Linked DNA regions of Homo sapiens: region 2 is linked to region 1. Evidence: fine-mapped expression QTL. A gene starts in region 1. The other region holds a variant in brackets. All regions are shown on one strand. Distances are from middle to middle.

What was found.
Region 2: its variant is fine-mapped to the expression of RHOT2 in skeletal muscle (GTEx, PIP 0.93).

Annotation. Positions count from the first base shown.
Region 1 is chr16:667,013-669,558 of GRCh38, forward strand. It overlaps RHOT2 (ras homolog family member T2), which reads left to right and starts at 1,120. Exons shown (of 19, transcript NM_138769.3): 1 at 1,120-1,224; 2 at 1,341-1,399; 3 at 1,476-1,557; 4 at 1,644-1,687; 5 at 2,541-2,546. The coding sequence starts at 1,188. It overlaps WDR90 (WD repeat domain 90), which reads left to right. Exons shown (of 41, transcript NM_145294.5): 41 at 420-818. The coding sequence ends at 577. RefSeq lists an enhancer at 831-1,512 and silencers at 898-1,237, 1,298-1,397, 1,498-1,587.
Region 2 is chr16:82,435-85,434 of GRCh38, forward strand. It overlaps MPG (N-methylpurine DNA glycosylase), which reads left to right. Exons shown (of 4, transcript NM_001015052.3): 3 at 618-822; 4 at 2,967-3,000. It overlaps NPRL3 (NPR3 like, GATOR1 complex subunit), which reads right to left. Exons shown (of 14, transcript NM_001077350.3): 14 at 2,952-3,000. Among named protein-coding and RNA genes, the nearest start is that of MPG, 5.7 kb to the left of the region's middle. RefSeq lists enhancers at 1,174-2,029, 2,737-2,856 and a silencer at 2,577-2,636. The variant C/G (reference allele first, on the strand shown) is at 1,255.

The sequences.
Region 1 (2,546 bases):
GGGCCTGTCTTAGGTGGGGGCCAAGTGGGCTGACTGGTGCCCTGTTCCAAGACAGGTGCCTCACCTGTGCCCCGGGCTCCTCGTCTCTGGGGTGGGGTGAGGACATCTGCCCTAGAGAGGGTCCTGGAGTCAGGAGATGATGAGGCAGGTGAGGAACCAGGCACAGCGCCCAGCACAGGGCCTGAATGCACGGGTGGCAGCGACTTTTAAGGAGGGAACTGGCCCAGCTGCAGGCCGACAGCCTGGCAGTGATGGACCCCCTAGTCCCAGTGGCACGTGGAGGGCACAGCCAGGAGCCCTTTTAGCACCAGCTCCCCCGACCAGCATCATGCCCAGTGGGGACAGTCTGGGTGGGTTGGGGGAGCCCTCTGAGTGCTGCCTGGTCCTGGCCCTGGCCCACCTGCACCGTCTACCCACAGAGTGCATGCTGAGGCTGGTAGACTGTGCCATGGGGACTGCCCAAGACTTTGCCGGCCACGACAACGCAGTGCACCTGTGCAGGTTTACACCGTCCGCCAGGCTGCTCTTCACGGCCGCCCGCAACGAGATCCTTGTGTGGGAGGTCCCCGGCCTCTGAGATGCAGCAGGGACTGTGGTGGTGGGCATCACGCCTGGTCATGCCAGGCACCTGGACACAGGCTTGGCAGAGGCGCCAGGTTGTCAATGGCCTCATGCTGGGACAGGCCAGGATTCACGTAAATCGCCTGGAGCAAGCTGTTGTAAATTTGGCGCCCTGTGAATACTTTCATACCTGTTGCCCTTTTGCCTAAGAAATCTTTAATGTTTCTATCTTGTAATAAACATGGGCATTTATTGCATTATTGCTGCATTGTTGCACTGGCTGTCTCTGGTCACTCCTGGCCTGAGCTCAGCCTCTGCCCGTCCCTTAATCGGCTGTTTGTCAAGGCCCCTGTGGTGCCGTGAAGCAATGGCCGCTCGGCCTGCCAGGGCGCCAGGACCCTGCGCTGTCCGCCGTGGCCGGCGCGTCCACACGGTGGCGCGCCGCACAGCCTGTCCGCTCTGGCCCGCCCGGCTCGCTGGTGCGGCTGTGCGGGCGGGGCCGGAAGTGTGGGGACAGCGCGGGGCCGAGAACCGGAAGTGCGGGGCGGGCGCGGGGGCAGAGCGAAAGGCTTGAGGACCAGGTCGGGGCCGGGTTCCGGGTCGGGGAGCGGCTCCGGGCGGCAGCTATGAGGCGGGACGTGCGCATCCTGTTACTGGGCGAGGGTAGGCGCCGGCCCGGGGGTCTCGGAGCTGCGGCGGCCGTGAGGCGGGGTGAGGGTCTCGGGGGTCGGGGGGCGCCGTGACCTTGGCCCTCGCGCTGACCGCCTCGCCCCGCGCAGCCCAGGTGGGGAAGACGTCGCTGATCCTGTCCCTGGTGGGCGAGGAGTTCCCCGAGGAGGTAAGGGGCACGCCCGCCGCGGGGGTGGGAGCGGGCCCAGCCGGGGGTCCCTGGTGAGCGCGCGGGTCCCTTGCAGGTCCCTCCCCGCGCGGAGGAGATCACCATCCCCGCGGACGTCACCCCGGAGAAGGTGCCCACCCACATCGTGGACTACTCAGGTAGCGGCCGTAGCCTCCCGGGGGCCCGGCCCGCAGCGGTCCGGCGGGCCTGCTGGGTCCGCAGTGGAGTCTCTTTGTCCCCCTAGAAGCCGAGCAGACGGACGAGGAGCTGCGGGAGGAGATCCACAAGGTACCCGTGGTGCGCGGGACGAGGGAGGGGCTGGGCGCGGGCTCGGCCTAATCCGCTTCGCAGCCTGGGGGATTGGACCGAGGTGCTCCGGGTGTCCTTGGCCCTGATAATTCTGTGACCTCCGCACTGAGGGTTGTCGGGGCCCCTACAGCGCACCCCGCTGGGAGCCGGCACCGCTCAGTCCAGTGGTGCTCCAGGGATAACAGGACCCTTCCCCGCGGGCTCTCCCTCCCTCCTGCCGGGGTGGCAGCAGCGTTTGCTCTTCCTGTGGGCTCTGTGTGCGCCACGTCCCCGTGCTGTGTGCTCCAGCCCACCGTCCCGGCCTCCGGGCACCCGGAGCTCCCAGTACCAGAGCACGTGTGCCGGGGACATCTCCAGGCAAGGGCACAGGCCACAGCCACCCAGGGCAGCCCCTGCTGTTGGCACCCCTCACTGCGGTCCTGTCACTCTGTCTGTAGCGAGGGGGGAGGCAGGGGCCAAGGCGGCGGCTGTCTTGCAGGGTGTTGGGTTGCAGGTGTGGCCGTGTCTGTCCTGAGCCCTCTGCTCCAAGGGTCTTGCTGACCACAGTTATGCTTCTGGGGCCTGGTGTCCCTGCACTGGCAGTGGGCGGGGAAGAGGCTTCTCTGAGGGTTCAGCAGCAGCTCCCAGTGTGACACTGGGGAGTGCCTGCTCTGCCAACACCAGGCTGGAGGCAGGTTTTAGGGAAGGCTGGGCTTTCCCGGCCTCAGAGCTGCACCCATGCTACCTGTGAGCTTCTGGGGCCTCCTGGAGCCTCGAGATGGCGTGGAACGGCCAGGGTCGTCGGTGGTGAGCCAGCAGCCCTGTCACCCACACCTCATCACTGTTCCCTCAGGCAAAC
Region 2 (3,000 bases), 580 kb before region 1:
GGGGCTCCGAGCAGTGACACAACTGTTGGCCGTTACCAGGACCATGGTCCAGGCTGGGGCACCGTGGGGCAGCTGGGCCTACTGCTCAGAAAGCCGGAGGGTGGGAGCTGAGTATGAGGGTCCCTTGTGGCCACCTCAGCAGCCCAGGTTTAGGGGACTTCACGGGCTCTGGGATTGCCCAGGTAGCTGGTGTGGGGACATCCTTGGGGTCCTGTGCCTTCCGTGATGCCTGGCCTCGTGCTAAATGCTGATGGTTTTCTCAAGGGCACTTGGGAAAGGAGGAATCTGGGGAATGGAGGGTCCTGCTGAGAGGACTTGACCTGCAAGGTGAATCCATGACTGCCGGTTCCCAGCCCAGCCTGGCTGTGGCCTGAGGTATCTTCGGCCTGCGGTCTGGTTGTCTAGCAGGGCTGGAGGAGACAACTGGTGCCCTCAATAGCCACATTCAGCCTCAGCAGGAGCAAGAGAAGAGGCAGGATGGAGACGGGGCAAGGTCCCTGGCTAGACCTGGGCGGCTGACACACCCTGAGCTGGGGAGATGAGGTCCAGGCTGGGCACTGTTAGGGTGAGTGGACCCCCATCCCTTCCCGCCCTGAGCAGAAACTGACTGCCCACAGGTCCTAGTCCGGCGACTTCCTAATGGCACAGAACTCCGAGGCCGCATCGTGGAGACCGAGGCATACCTGGGGCCAGAGGATGAAGCCGCCCACTCAAGGGGTGGCCGGCAGACCCCCCGCAACCGAGGCATGTTCATGAAGCCGGGGACCCTGTACGTGTACATCATTTACGGCATGTACTTCTGCATGAACATCTCCAGCCAGGGTGAGCAGTGCTGGGGCACGGGGGGTTGGAGGGCCGGCAGAGCCCTGTCCGCTAGCAGCCAGGGGACCACTAGGAGGACTGAGGTGGGGCCAGCATTTGAGCGAGGAGGTGCCACTTCCAGGCCAGGCCAGGGTTTCGGGAGCTCTGGCTACGCTGACGGGGCAGGGCTGGTTAGGTTAAAGGGGTAGAAAGGGCCGGGTGGGGCCGGGCGCGGTGGCTCACGCCTGTCATCCCAGCACTTCGGGAGGCCGAGGCGGGCGGATCACCTGAGGTCAGGAGTTCGACACCAGCCTGGCCAACACGGTGAAACTCTGTCTCTACCAAAAATACAAAAATTAGCTGGGTGTGGTAGTGGGCTCCTGTAATCCCAGCTACTAGGGAGGCGGAGGCAGGAGAATCGCTTGAACCCGGGAGGCGGAGGTTGCAGGGAGC[C/G]AAGATCGCGCCATTGCACTCCAGCCTGGGTGACAGAGCGAGACTCCATCTCAAAAAAAAAAAAAAAGGAAAGGAAAAGAAAGGGTTGGTTGGAGTGGAGGCAGAAAGAAGGCCGAGGACACAGTGTCGCCTGCCCTTGACGGAGGCAGCACATGAGGATGAGAAGCTGATTGGAGAAGAGGATGACTGCAGTGCTAAGAGCAGCGTGGTCAGGTTGCCAAGGATGGAGCAGTGGGCACAGCAGGGGGACTTAGGGTCGGCGGAGGAGTCGGTGAGGAAAGGGAGGTTTGGCAGGAAGTGATCAAAGGGGTCATGTTTTTGTCAGGATGTGGGACTTGGATGTGTTCTGTGTGAAGGAGCCAGGGCACGGGGCTGTGGTGATGAGGGCGGCCAGGCTTTGACTCATTTGCAGGCGGCTCTGTGGGGGCTCAGTGAGACAACGAGGGGCGTGTGCCCTGCACCCACAGGGATGTAGAGGGTCCTGCTCCTCCCTACTGAGGTGGGTCAGGGTGGGCAGCAGGCACCCCACCTGGTGAGCTGGAAGCAGCGTGGGAATCACAGAATGGACGGGAACTTAAAGGCTTTGCTTGGCCTGGATTTTATCTTGAAATACTTTTGACAGCTGGCTGGTTGAGGGTATCTGCTCACAGGAACGCCGCATTTGCTGGCTTTGTCCACTAGTGCTCGCCCCTGGCTGCTGATGCGGAGCCTCACGTGGCCGCAGCCCAAGAGTAGGGACTGGCTTGGCCACCTCCAGGCTAAGCTTCGGACTCCCAGGTGGCTGGGAGGGCCAGGGGTGCACAGGTGCATCAGAGCAGGTGCTGCCTTGCTGGAGGGCCAGGGCTCTTCTGGCCAGGGTCCAGGTCATCATTGTCCCCAGCCAGGAATCCAAGGGGCCTTTCCAAACCTGCAGGGCAGAGGGAATTCGGGTATCTGTGCTTGAGTGAGCCCCTGGGCCCAGGAGCCTTCGCTTGCTGTCTCTGTTTCTCAAGGGGCCTGGCCTGGTGAGGGAGGGGGCTAGGCTGGAGGAGGGATCCCAAGGGAGGTGAGGGGGCTTTGTCAGCCTCCTCCTGCCCTGCCTGTGCAGGGTGTTGCAGTCAGTCCTTCCACTGAGTCATTGCATGGGCTCTCCCAACATCCGGTGCACACTGGCAGCTGCTCTAAGCCAACTCCTAGCCCCCACCACTTGACCAACACAAACACTGAGTGGGTGAGGCAGAAGGGGAGCGCTGGGGCCTGGCTAGGCCAAGGCTTCCTGCTTCCTGGCTGAATGATCGCACCCGAGGACTGGCTCTCTGGAGCTTCCTTTGCTGGCTTTATAGCTGCTGCCAGTCACAAGACCAGGGGAAGCCAGGTGGAAAGGAACTGATACCCAGCATTTGTCATGTGTTTTTAACAGTCTGGCTTTGTGGGGGCGGCCACAGTGGGGGAGGCCCTGCCTGGTGGTGGAAGCCAGAGGTGCCCACAGGAGGCACACCTCATGGTGCAGGCTTGGAGGATGGCAAGGTAGGCAGAGGGGTCTGGACACAGTGAGGTGCAGCCCCCTCCCACCAGGTCAGACCCAGGAGATGGTGCAGGTGCACAGAGCAGGTCCCTGGCCCAGGCAGGAAGGCAGCTGCACCCTCCCTGCAGCACAGGATGTCTGGATGTGTACTAGGGCAGAGAGGACAGGAGCCTAGGGAGGCTCCACTTCCAAACTGTCCGTCCCACAGGGGACGGGGCTTGCGTCTTGCTGCGAGCACTGGA